Homo sapiens: one gene and its partner. The protein of the gene in region 1 interacts with the protein of each later gene in a pairwise test. Each region holds a gene or a part of one and is shown on either strand. Other genes may lie near its edges.

The links. The genes of interacting proteins can lie anywhere in the genome.
Region 2: the proteins of CSGALNACT2 (region 1) and SYT1 interact in binary tests that used the Homo sapiens proteins (3 or more experiments, as listed by UniProt).

The regions. Positions count from the first base shown.
Region 1 is NC_000010.11:43,148,444-43,155,471, reverse strand, and holds part of CSGALNACT2 (chondroitin sulfate N-acetylgalactosaminyltransferase 2), read right to left. Parts: intron 5,686-7,028; exon of another isoform or gene 5,329-5,685; intron 576-5,328; 5' UTR 323-575; coding exon 1-322. UniProt on the Homo sapiens protein: Transfers 1,4-N-acetylgalactosamine (GalNAc) from UDP-GalNAc to the non-reducing end of glucuronic acid (GlcUA). Required for addition of the first GalNAc to the core tetrasaccharide linker and for elongation of chondroitin chains.
Region 2 is NC_000012.12:79,280,746-79,287,773, reverse strand, and holds part of SYT1 (synaptotagmin-1), read right to left. Parts: intron 1,988-7,028; coding exon 1,803-1,987; intron 1-1,802. UniProt on the Homo sapiens protein: Calcium sensor that participates in triggering neurotransmitter release at the synapse. May have a regulatory role in the membrane interactions during trafficking of synaptic vesicles at the active zone of the synapse.

The DNA.
Region 1 (7,028 bases):
CTATGCCATTAGCCCCTACATTCCTTCTTTCTTGCAGTGACCGCATCTTCTCACTCATTTCTTGTAATTCTTGTTTTAGTTGGGCAATTTGGCGTTTCAGACTGGTTGCCCTGGTCTGATAATGTTCTTCTTGTTCCTGTAGGAGGGCTTGATAATACTCTTTACCATAATTTTCCCCAACAACACCAGGAAGAGATGCATTTCCATCAGTCTGGGGGGCACATTCCAGGAGGTACATAAATAATACCAAACTGCAGAGCAAAGCAAGGCCCAACAGCAACCAGTGGGTCCGGGTGTGAAGAATCAGTCCTCTTCTAGGCATTCTTATTAATGTGTATTTGCCTAACAAAATAAGCTCTTTGTGTGTTCATACCTTTAGTAAAAAGTTATCAAAAATTAAAAACAAAATCAGAATTTCCATAAAATAATTCTGCCGTAGCTTTAAGTTTTTCTTTCTTCAGCAGTCATGACTACTTGCAGAAATGGGAAATTATGTATACTTTCTGTATTGTTACCATGATATCCAGAATAAAGCAATCTGATATATAAAATCCATTATATTGGTAGTGATTTTTCTGAAAGACACAGATCAGAATCAATCAGAATTTTGTTCCCTTAAGGATATCAAATTTGTTTGTGGCTTCAGTAAACTTAGCTACGTGACTACTACATGCAGAGAACTATGAGAGGTACTAATATAATTTAGAATATTCAGTAAATACTAGGAGAATTTTTTTTTTTTTTTGAGATGGAGTCTCACTCCGTCACCCAGGCTGGAATGCAGTGGCACAATCTTGGCTTACTGCAACCTCTGCCTCCTGGGTTCAAGTGATCCTTCCATCTCAGCTTCCTGAGTAGCTGGGACTACAGGCATCTGCCTACCACTCCCAGCTAATTTTTGTATTTTTAGTAGAGACAAGGTTTCACCATGTTAGCCAGGCTGGTCCTGACCTCAGGTGATCTGCCTGTCTTGGCCTCCCAAAGTGCTGGGATTACAGGTGTGAGCCACTGAGCCTGGCCTGGGAGAATTTTTTAAAATACCTTAAAAAACAATAAACTATGTATAATACTTTTAACTATTATGTCTACACAGCTATAACTTGAATCAAAGAAACATTAAAATTACGTCAGCATAGTCTGTATTACATATATTCTACTGTTCTCTAATTATTTGAAAATTATATTGCCTATAACTCTTTATTAACATAGTATTTCAATTACCGCACCATTTCCCAACTAAAGCTTATGACCATTTGGGAACTGAGTTTATAGAAACTGTTTCTGTTACAGTAATAACGGTTTACTGGAGAGAGAGATTTTCTCCCAGTTTATTCAACTCAAGCATTCTACCTCATTAATTTCTACTGCTCAGCTCAGCCAATCTAGGAGACTTAAAATTAAGTGGGGGAAAGAACAACTTCAAAAGCTCACAGACATCTGAAAAACACATTAAGAAAACATTTTTATATCCAATGTCCTCCAGTAGATTATTTGCACATTAGATCACATAATTCTTTCCACTGTATTATGCATCAACAGATTTCCTACAAGTCTAGAAAGGTTTGGAGTCTATATAAAGAAAAAACATGAAGAATTTAATCATCCTTATCAGCAGAGAAAAAAATTCAAAAACCATTTATACATTTATAAAATTACATGCTATCGTTCATGCCACAACCAGTTGTGCGAACTCTTCCATGTCTTTAATGATTCTTAACTCTAAAAATAGAGGTTTAACTTAGGACAAGGGAGGCAAGGAGGACTCCACTGCAAAGAGAACTTCCATTGTAACAAAGTGCTTGTTGAGAAGGATAATGTGATATGACAGCAGGTTTTTAACAGTAATGGTTTTCTCACTGCAGCAAAACCTGGAAGATCACTACAGGTTATCAGTCCTAGCCACTTTTTTAATGAGTAGAAAAACCTGGATGCTTTCTGTGGCAAATGCTGCAATGCGTATTTTTTTTTTTTTGGTAACATGTCTGTATAAAACATAGGACAGAAGAAAACTTCTTATGGCCAATATACCACAAATAATGGTCTTAACTCTCCTTAGTCATTTATTATTTTAGTAAACGAAATGATAACCAAGTATCTTGAAAAATTTAACTCACTACAAGGGAGTCCTTTTTTTTTTGAGACAGAGTCTTGCTCTGTCGCCCAGGCTGCAGTGCAGTGGCGCGATCTTGGCTCGCTGCAAGCTCCGCCTCCTGGGTTCGCGCTATTCTCCTGCCTCAGCCTCCCGAGTAGCTGGGACTACAAGCGCCGGCCACCACGCCCGGCTAATTTTTGTATTTTTAGTAGAGACGGGGTTTCATCGTGGTCTCATCTCCTGACCTCGTGATCCGCCCGCCTCGGCCTCCCAAAGTGCTGGGATTAGCCACCGCGCCTGGCCAAGGGAGTCTTTTACTATTACAGCATCTCTCTTACTGATTATAAATCTTGTTTGAGTGATGTAGAAAAAAACAGAAAAAAAATAGTTGGCTTTAAGAAATACCATCTAATCAAAAAATAACTAGTATTATTTCCAGGACTTAACCATACCTCAAAACCATAATCCCTAGCATAAGAAAACACTTGAATTTCATTATTTAAAAGATAAACCTAGCGGTATCTGTTTTAACTATTACTAGCCCATTTATTAGGAAAAAGAACTGAAAATGTGGAGACATAATCTTGTATAATAAAGATATACATACTTTAATTAATAAAGATATACATACTTAAGCATGTTATACTCAAAACTGAAGTGAAACTGGGTAACAGAACTACCACTATCTTTTATTAATATGGTACCTCATATGTTTTCTTTATATACACAATGTATTTTAGACTATGAGCTATAACTCAGACAATAGGTCACTACTGAAGGTTTACTTTTCAATAAAATAGAATGGAAATTATCAGTGGCAGTGTTAAAAAGCTAAGGTCATTTTTCTTCCTCTTCCCTTTAAGGGAAATACAGGTTTTGAGATATCCTACTTAATATTACAGTTGAATATTTTCCAATAAAATGAAAGGATACTGTAATTACTTCAGAATGTAAAAGTTGCATAATTCTGTGGTTATTAAAAATGAAAGATTTCAATTAAAATCTTATTTGCCTAGTTCCCGAAAGAAACTCTTTGGCCATAATCTAGAAGATTACATTATAGCTGTTCTATCATATAAATATATTAAGAATATTATAGAAAACATTTTTCTGTTGTTACATCTTGATTGTCATCATTCTATGAAATGTGTTTGTATCATGAATACGGTTCATTCACAGCCCAGAGTTAATCCCAACAAGCCTTCTAAGCACAAATGCAGATAGTTAAGTGTTTTGAGGAGAGAAAAGGATAATGTGAAGATGGGAAAATAAGCTGTTAAAGGTATGTAATATGAAGCCAAAGATCTCAGGATTGAAAGAAACCTTACAAGCCATCAATTCTAACTCTCTAAAACTGCTTAAAAAACTGACTTCCTTTTACGACCAAGATGAAGTAACGGGCCAGATTTACTCTCAGATTTGCTCTCTTTGGTTGTCTTGAAACAACCAAAAACAAACAAACAACTTTTCCTGCCAACAAACCCAAAATATGAAACAATGATTTTCAAGATATTTAACATCAGGTAACAAAGGACAGTGATCCCCAGAGAAACAAGAAACAAGTGGTTGCCAGCTTACTGCCTTAGTTTCTGAGCCACACAAGGAGGGGAACCTAAGCAGAGCCCAGCAGATTCCCTGAGTTCATGGGATGCAGCTCATAGTCTGAAGAGACCAAGGTATCTAGGATTAAAGCATATAGTACCAGAGTGGATACAGCTGCACACAGAGAGAACTCCAGAAATCTGAATAGGATATCCCATGGGTATTTGGCAGAGCACTGATAAGTAAAGGCTTATGAGGCAACTAACGGGCTAAGGAAAGGACCACACACAAAATTAGAGGACACAGAACCCAGCATTCATACAGGGCCAGGATTAGTGCATGTTCCCAACAGACAGACTGGAAAACCTCAGAATTCCCAGGGCACTCGGTAGAGCACTCAAAAAAATCTTGTCTCAGTAGTGGGAAATAATTAGCTCTAGACTAAACATGGCACTAATCCTGCCAATACATCTTAAAAGCAAGACTTGAAAGGATCACATTATTTCCAAGTAATAGCACAACAAGCCTTAAGAATATTTATAAGAATACAGAAATATCCAGTACTCAACAAAATAAAATTCACAATATCTGGCATCTCAACAAAAATTACCAGGTATAAAAAAATATGATCCATAATGAAAAAAATCAACAATTAAAACTGACCAATGATTAGAACTGACAGATGTGGGAATCTGCAGAAAAAGGACACCAAAACAGCTATCATAACTGTATTTTTAAAATGATGTTTATGTTCAAAAATTTAAGTAGAGGTATGAATGACATAAAAGAGATCCAAGTTAAACTTCAGGAGATGAAAATTTCAGTGTCTGAGATGAAAAATACACTGAATGGGATTAATGGCAGATTAGATATTTTAGAAGAAAATATTAGTAAACTAGAGATGTAGCAAAAGAAACTATGCAACATACAGAAAGAAAAAAGAATCAAAAATATAAACAAAGCATTGATAAGCTCTGTGACAACTTCAAACAGCCTAATATACATGTAACTGGAGTCCCCAAAGAAGGGGGAAGGAGTCAGGAGAAATACTTAAACAAATAAGGCTGAAAATTTCCCAAATTTGATGGAAACTATAAACACACATAAGAAGCTCAACCAATCCCAAATAGCCATAAAGAAAATTATAGCAAGGTACATGATAATCAAATTGCTCAAATCCAATGTAAAGAGAAAATCTTTAAACTGGCCACATGAAAAATGCACATCACATACAAGGAACAAAAGATAATAATGACAGATTACTCTTTGAAAACTGAAAGTAATTAGACAGTGGAACAATGATCTTTAAAGAACTAAAAAGAAAAATATGCCAGCCTACAATTCTATACCCAGAGAAATTATCTTTGAAAAAGGCAAAATACTTTCTCTACATAAAAAGCTAAAGGAATTCATCACCATCATACCTGTACTGTAAGTCTTTTAGGCAGAGGAACATAATACCAGAAAGGAATATGGATTTATACAAAGCAATGAAAAACATCATTAATGTTAACGACATTGGTAACTAAGATTTTTGCTCATTATTATCTAAATCTCTTCAAAAGATAACTGAATAAAATGGACAAAATCCTAGAAAGATAGAAACTAACAAAACTGATTTAAGAAGAAATACCAGATATGAATAGACTTATATGACAAAAGATTGAATTAATAATAATAAAAAAACTACTCACAATGAAAAGTCCAGGCCAAGAGGCTTCACTGGTGGAATGTACCAAACATTTATTTATTATTACTATTATTTTTTTTGAGACAGAGTTTCGCTCTTGTTGCCCAGGCTGGAGTGCAATGGCGCGATCTCAGCTCACCGCAACCTCCGCCTCCCACGTTCAAGGGATTCTCCTGCCTCAGCCTGCCGAGTAGCTAGGATTACAGGCATGCACCACCACGCCTGGCTAATTCTGTATTTTTAGTAGAGATGGGGTTTCTCCATGTTGGTCAGGCTGGTCTTGAACTCTCGACCTCAGGTGATCCACCCGCCTCAGCCTCGAAAAGTGCTGGGATCACAGGCGTGAGCCACCACACCCAGCCTAGCAAACATTTAAATAAGAATTATTATTATTAAATAAGAATTATCTTCACAGACTCTTCCAAAAAATAGAAGAGGAAGCATTCTATAAGGTCAGTATCATCCTGCTACCAAATCCAGACATTAAAAGAAAACCATAGGCCAATATCCTATATGAATATAAATACAAAAATCCTCAACAAAATACTAGCAAAACGAACCCAGCAATATATAAGAGGAATCATACATCATGGCCAAATAAGATTTATCCCAGGACTGCAAGGTTGGTTTAACATCTGAAAATCAATTAATGCAATATACCATATCAATAGAAGACAAAATTCACTTGATCATCTCAACAGACATGGAAAAAGCATTTGACAAAATCCAACACCATTTCCTAATAAAAACCATTCAATAGGGGCTGGGTGCGGTGGCTCACACCTGTAATTCCAGCACTTTGGAAGGCCGAGGTGGGCAGATCCCACGAGGTCAGGAGATAGAGACCATCCTGGCTAGCACAATGAAACCCCGCCTCTACTAAAAATACAAAAAATTAGCCGGGTGTGGTGGTGGCATGCACCTGCAGTCCCAGCTACTCAGGAGGCTGAGTTAGGAGAATCACATGGACCTGGGAGGCGGAGGTTGCAGTGAGCCGAGATCACGCCACTGCACTGCAGCCTGGGCGACAAAGCGAGACTCCATCTCAAAAAACCAAACCAAACCAAACCAAACACCATTCAATAAACTAGAAGACACCTTCCTAATCTAAGAAAAGGGACCTACAAAAAACCCATAGCTAACATTGTATTTAATGATGAAAGACTGTATGCCTTCCCCCAAGATCAGGAATAAGACAAGGATGTCTGTTCTTGTCACTTCTATTTATATTGTACTAGAGGAGGTTGTAGCCAAGGCAATTAGGCAAGAAAATGAAATAAAAGGCATCCAGATTGAAAAGGAAGAAGTAAAACTATCCTTATTTGCAGATGATATGATCTGTATGCAGAAAATCCTAAGGAATTCACTAAAAATCTATTATAACTAATAAATGAGTTCAGCCAGTTGTAGGATACAATATCGATATACAAAAATCAATTGTATTTCTCTACATTAGCAACAAGCAATCTGAAAATGAAATTAAAAAAACAATCCTGTATACAATATGGCATCAAAAAGAATAAAATAGGAATAATGTTAACAAAAGAACTGCAAGACTTGTATTCATAGAAACTACAAAACATTGTTGGAAGAAAGTTAAGATTTAAATAAACAGAAAGACACCACACTCATGATTGGAAGGCTTAATATTGCTAAAATGGTAATATTCCCCAATTAATGTACAGATTAAACACAATCCTCTTC
Region 2 (7,028 bases), on another chromosome or scaffold:
CCAGGTCATAACAGGGGTAATAAACACCACCACTATGCTGTAAATTATAATTTTACATCATACAGAACAAATCCCACAAATATTATAGATTTATTGTCCTAGGAAGAAATGCTATCGTTATCACTTAACATTATTCAGTAATTTTAATTAGTTCTAGAACACAGGGAAACCACATTCAAATTTTATGATAATTATGAAAAAGATAGTGATCTATTGTCAAATTATTGTTTTCACAATATTGATAAAATTAACATACATATTATTCAGTCCATGTCCATCTAGGAGGTTATTTCCACACTTAATCTCCCAATAAGTTGTTTAAAGAAATCTTTATCAAGTCCTGCTTGCTATGAAAAGTGTGGAAATAAAGTAAGACATGCCTGGAAATTTTAGTTTCTACTTAAATTAACTGAAGAGAAAAATCTTTATTAGACACCTGTAGTTGAACGTTTATGCATTGGCTTTTGTGACTGTGATTAGAAATTGCCAGAAAAATCAAACCCTTGCTACTCCGAGCTCAGGCCAAAACTCTCTGAGTATGAGTACAGGCATTTCATCCATTCCATAGCTCCAAAACAGAACAAAAATGCAGGGAGTAAAACATGAGCCTTTGTGAAATTATTATCAATAGATACTATAGTGTCTTTGAGGAAAAAGAGTTTAAAACTGAAGCTGGGAAGGGGAGTTAATGTCCCTGAATGTGTAATGAACTAGGAAACAACGCAAATGTACTTAAAATGCCTGTTGTAACACCTGATTAAATTGTTCTTAAGGAGATTCAGGTTTAAGAGTTTGATTAATAGTAATTAATAGTATAAGAGGAATTTATAAAACTGCTTATATATTTTGCTATTTGGGAATAAATAAAACTTTTGTATTTGATGAAAACATTGATAATTGAAAATGTTAATTCTATAAAAAATCTGTACATTTACATTTTAATTTTAAAATATGAATTAAATATTCTTTAGAGATATTCAACATGGATATTATTTCAAAAATGAAGAGGCATTTAATAATTATCATTAATAATAGTAAACATTATCTTGAACCAAGTTGTCCAATTAATTTAGCCAAAAACAGATAGCAACATAAAGAACATCCAAATAGCTTTTTTGGGCTTGGAAAGATAACCCAGCCAGATGGATTTTATAACCAGTGTTATGGTTGTAATTGTCCTTATTAAATTGAAATGAGAATTTTGTCTTATAAGAAATAAGAAAGAAAACTTTTTCATAAGGCAAAAATTCTATCCTGTCGTGTTCTTTAGAACTGGCTCATATTTCTCTCCCTTCTCCCATGTAACTCATTATTCTTGAGAATTAATTTTTCAGCTGGATGGACATGTAGGAAAAGCAGCTTTCATCCAGTTTGATGAACAGCCGTAAAACTCAGTTATTTAACAGTGACTATGAACAGTAGAAATTAGAAAGATCCCCTGCCCAAATGCAAAACACTCAGGCACTTTTTATCTGATTTTTCTAACTCTAAACGCAATGAAGACTGGTTAAACAGATGTAATCAAAATATTCAGGCATCATTCTCATATGCCAAACCCATCAAGATGGGCCTGATGATCATGGATGCCCTTTTCTGTTCTATATGCTCAGGAGATTGGAAAACCCTGCCAAATGCTTCCATTATGCTTTGGGATCTTGAACAATGACTGAAAGGTTTGCAAAGCATCTCAAAAACGATATGGGTCCAGAAGTTGTTTATTTCTGTAATTATATGGCATAAAATAATACATTTGTTTATCTTTTTTAAACAAAATAAGAAGAAATGTAGAAAGAATACATTACCTGATCTTTCATCGTCTTCCCTAAGTCTTTTACATCTTTCATGTTAATGGCATTCTTCCCTCCTTTTTCCTTTCCCTTCTTCTTGTTTTTCTTTTTGAACAAACATTTCTTACAGATACAAAAGCAGCAGGTCAGGACTAAAAGGACTGCGACTATGGCTATTGCAATTAAGGCCCACGGTGGCACTGAAAGAAACACACAGAGAGCACTAGTCATACAACACTTAGATGTGGAAAACCTTTTAACTCATGGGCTATAAAGATATTCATTTTTTTCATTTGCATTTTTGAGCACCTGTTATGCTGCAGGTACACCATTCCTCAGTACTTTATCCATGTTGTTGTCTCCCTTGAGTGTATTGTTTCCTTTCTTTCCCACTTTGCCCTTCCAGATATGTCAAATGTCATCTCCTCCCTATTACTTTTCTTGACTCTCCAAGCTAGATTTCTAGGAACACATCTCTTCACTCATTCAGAGCCAAGCTTTGGAGTTCAGCCATTGAGTTTAAATCCTGGCTTCACCATTTACTAGCTGTGTGATCTTGGGCAAGTCATCTAACCTCTCTCTGCCTCACTTTCCTCATCTCTAAAGTGGAAATAAATTGGTAGGTACCCCATAGATCTTTCTGAGTATTAAATAATAAGATGCAGTGCCTGGCACATGGCAAAAGCTTAATAAATGGCAGCTGCTATTACTCATCTATAAAATACTAGGTGTTGTATTCTTATGTTCTGGCATGGTATGGGGCAGATATTAGTTGTATATATAGAACAACAAATGTCAAATCATAACAATAGTGAAGGTTAATTAAAAGTACTTGGTGATTTGAAAATCAAGCATGGGGAAAATGTATGCACTGAAGTTCTCCAGATGTGGGTGATGCTCATGTGTTCGGTGGCTCTTAACCCAGGTTTAGATTTTGGCTTCGGCCACTTAGAGGCTGTGTGACTCTACTCAGATTGCTTCACTGTTCTGAGTTTCTGTTTCCTCCTCTATACAGTGAAGATTACAGTGGTACCCATTTCATCTGGCTTAAAGATGAAAGGGATTAATATGTTAAAAAGCTTTTAATGCATCTGGAACATAGCAAGAGCTCAATTAATGTTAGCTATCAATTCTTTTTTTTTTTTTTTTGAGATGGAGTCTCGCTCTCTTGCCAGGCTGGAGTGTAGTGGCACGATCTCGGCTCACTGCAAACTCTGCCTCCTGGGTTCAAGCAATTCCCCTGCCTCAGCGTCCCGAGTAGCTGGGACTTCAGGCACACGCCACCATGCCCAGCTAATTTTTATATTTTTTTTAGTAGATACGGGGTTTCACCATGTTGGCCAGGATGGTCTCGATCTCCTGACCTTATGATCCACCTGCCTCGGCCTTGCAAAGTGCTGGGATTACAGGCGTGAACCACCACACCTGGCCAAAGTTAGCTATCATTTCTTTATAGTCAAGGCATGGTGGGTAAGGCAGAGAGCTCAGGACATATGAAAAAACATAAACTACTCACACAAGTAAATACCTAAAAAGCAAGATAAATACACAGAGGGGAGTTTAGTGAAAATGCAAAGGCAATGAGAGGAGGACGGATGATTTTTAGATAAGAGGAGAGGCTTAGGTTTACAGGCTGTTTAAAATAATAGAACATATATACATAAATATACTAAAATAAACATTGAGTTTTCTATTACAGTTGTCTCTCTGATAAAAGTTAATATATTTTCTTATTTGGTATGCCTTACACCATGTGCTTATAAAAAATAAGGTGACATGGAAACATTTATGATTTCAGTTAGATTGGAAGGGAAGTATTCATAATCCAAATCACAGCTATTGAGATTAATCAGAAGTAATTAGATTTGTCTGTTGTAATAAAAAAAAAAGATACTGGGCACTGAAATGATAAGAAAAAGCCAAATAAACATTACTAGAACCAATGATTGCTGAACACCAGTCAGGAATACTTTGATAAAGTAAAAACACTTAAAAATTAACCTCTCTTCAAAATTGAGAAAATCTACTCTCTTTGCTTTTCCTCTGCATTTAGTATCATTGTGCAGAATACTTACTATGCATAATATTCTGGCTTATGACTGGATACTAGATGTTAACCTAAGGACATAAAACTACAACTTTTGAAATTGTGTTTTCTACCAAAGAAATACTTATGTGACAGTTACAGATAAACCCACACCTAAAGAAGTTTTCTTCCAGTTCTCTAAATTTATTAAACAAGGTAAAGATTACATAAAAAGTAAATTATTTTATGTAACCAATGATATCATTCATAATACTTCATTTAAAAGCATCTATCTCCATTGATTTAGTTAAAATCCTGTCATGCATGAACAAGAGAGTGTATGTATTCATTGCGGGAAAGACAGCATTCATAATGACCCTTCATTTTGAACCTCATAAATTATTCTCCCAGTTGGACTTGTGTGGTGATAGTCGCTCAGAGAGCTACATAAAAGTCTCTTAAATTGTACAAGACAAGACAAAGATGATTTGACAAGTTCACAAAAAGAAAATAGTGAAAGCAAAGGAACATCATTTAATCAAAGGGAGTTAAAGAGCTAGGAACATGAGATTACAGGAAGAAATTTGAAATAATGCAACTTGAAAGTAATTTATAACCACTGAAAAACTTTTGTTTTATGACTTTTATTTCTTAAAGCACTGCTGTCTTTTAGATTTGCCTTCAGTTGATCTTCTGAATAACTTTAAGTTGGAATATGCTGTATTAAATATAATGAAATTAACAGAATTTTCTTCACAATGTATTGGCACCTTTAGATAGACAAAATAAAAAATGCTTAACGTTATCATTTTGTATAGCTATAGGATAGCTTCACTCATTAGTCATATATCATGTAAAGAAACAGCCATTTTTAGTAAATAGAGTTACTTGGATGCTCATGTTAAAATTTTATTTAATTGTGTAGAGTAACCAAATATTTAAAATTTGGCAAGTTTACTAAGAAACAACACCCACAGTATTATTCATCTGCAGTATTTGTAGAAACATGTTTCAATATTGGTCAGCAAATCTTGTGGAATATATTTTGGATCAGGCTAAAAGTTTATTGAAGACCTACCTACCTGTTATGGCCCAGCAATTTGGCTACAGTTATAGATACATTATCTTATTTATTCTTTGCAGCAGTTTTGTTCAGTATCACTGCAGTTTTACAGAGGAAAAACTATAGGTTGAATAGTTTGAGAAATTCAAATTTATCTTTAGGTCGTTAGGTTAAAAATGTGAATATTAAAAATGTATACGGAGAAAAAATTTGTATCTAGCTTTAAAGTCTCTTTAATAGAACATATTAAATTAAATAATTCAGTGAAGCAAATAACAGCATAAAATGCAGTGATTTTTTAAATACAAAATAAGAGTTTCAGTCAAAAATAGTCTCATCAAAATACTGCTACAGGCAGAAAACTATCAGTTTATTGTTATTGCTACCCAACTACCATTACATGGAAGTTTATAATAACAATTTTAACATTCAACTTAAAGGCCTTTCAGCAGAAAATAATTGACTAGTATAAAAACTCTATTAAAAATTTTATTTTCATTTTCTAGTTAATGAATCAATCTCACATATATTATCTGACCCAAAGGTAAATTGATACATAATAATTAAGTACAAGGCAAATTAATTTAAAACTGCTTCTGATGTTTTAATTAATACCTTGTGGTAGACATGATAATGGCCCCTCCAAGATGACCACATCCTATTTTCTGGAAGCTGTGAATACCTTACCCTGCCTGGTAAGAGGGACTTTGCAAGTGTGATTAGATTAAGGATCTTGAGATGGGGAAATTATCCTGAATTATCTGAGTGTAGACTCAATGCAATTACCAGAGTTTTTATAAGTGAAAGAGGCAGGCAGAAATGTCAGAGTCCAAGAGAGAGAGGGAGATTTGAAGAGTCTCTGTTGCTGGTTTTGTAGATAAAGAAAGGGACCATGAGCCAAGGAATGCAGGTGCCTCTTGAAGCTGGAAAAGGCAGGGAAATGGATTCTCCCCTACACCTTCAAGAGAGAATTGGCCCTGCTGACGCCTTGATTTCAGCTCAGTGAAACCAATTTCAGATTTCTGACCTCCAGAATGGGAAAATAATAAATGTGTGTGGCTTTTATGACAGTAAACTTGGAATAATTCATTATAGCAACAATAGGAACTCAAGTGATACAAAGAAGACCTCAAGAGATTTGTAATATATGCTGTATATAGGTAACTATACATTAGTAATATTCATGTGGGCTAGTCATGTATTTTCTGCTGTCTTTTCATTTATTTATTTATTTTAGTAGCTCTAGGGGTTTGGTTAAATGGATGAATTGTATAGTAGTAACGTCTGGGCTTTTAGTGTACCCATCACCTGAATGGTGTACATTGTATCCAATAGGTAATATTTAATCTCTCATCCCCTTCCCACTTTTGAGTCTCCAGTGTTCATTATACCATTCTATATGCCCATGCATACCCATAGCTTAGCTTTCACTTATAAGTGAGAATATGCAGTTTTTGGTTTTCTGTTTCTGAGTTACTTCACTTAGGATAATAGCCTCCAATTCTAACCAAGTTGCTGCAAAAAGACATTATTTTGTTCTTTTATTATAACTGAGTAGTATTCCATGATCTATCTATCTATATCTATCTATATCTCTATATCCGTATCTGACATTTTCTTTATCCACTCATCCATTGATGAGCACTTAGGTTGATTCCATACCTCTGCGTTTGTGAATTGTGCTGCAATAAACATATAAGTGCAGGTGTCTTTTTGATATAATGGCTTCTTTTTCTTTGGGTAGATATCCATTAGTGGGATTGCTGGATCAAATGGTAGAACTGTTTTTAGTTCTTTGAGAACTCTCCATACTGTTCTGCATAGAAGTTGTACTAATTTACCTAATACATCAACAGTGAGTAAGAGTTCCATTTTCACAGCATCCATGCCAGTATCTATTTTTTTTTTTTTTACTTTTTATTAATGGCCATTCTGACTGTAAGGTGGTATCTCATTTTGGTTTTAATTTTTATTTCTCTGATGATTAGTGATGTGGAGCATTTTTTTCATATGTTTGTTGGCCACTTGTATGGCTTCTTTTGAAAAATCTCTCTTCACATATTCCCACTTTTTATGGGATTATTATCTTTTTTTCTTGCTGATTTGAGGTCCCTGTGGATCTTGGATATTAGCCGTTTGTTGGATGTATAGT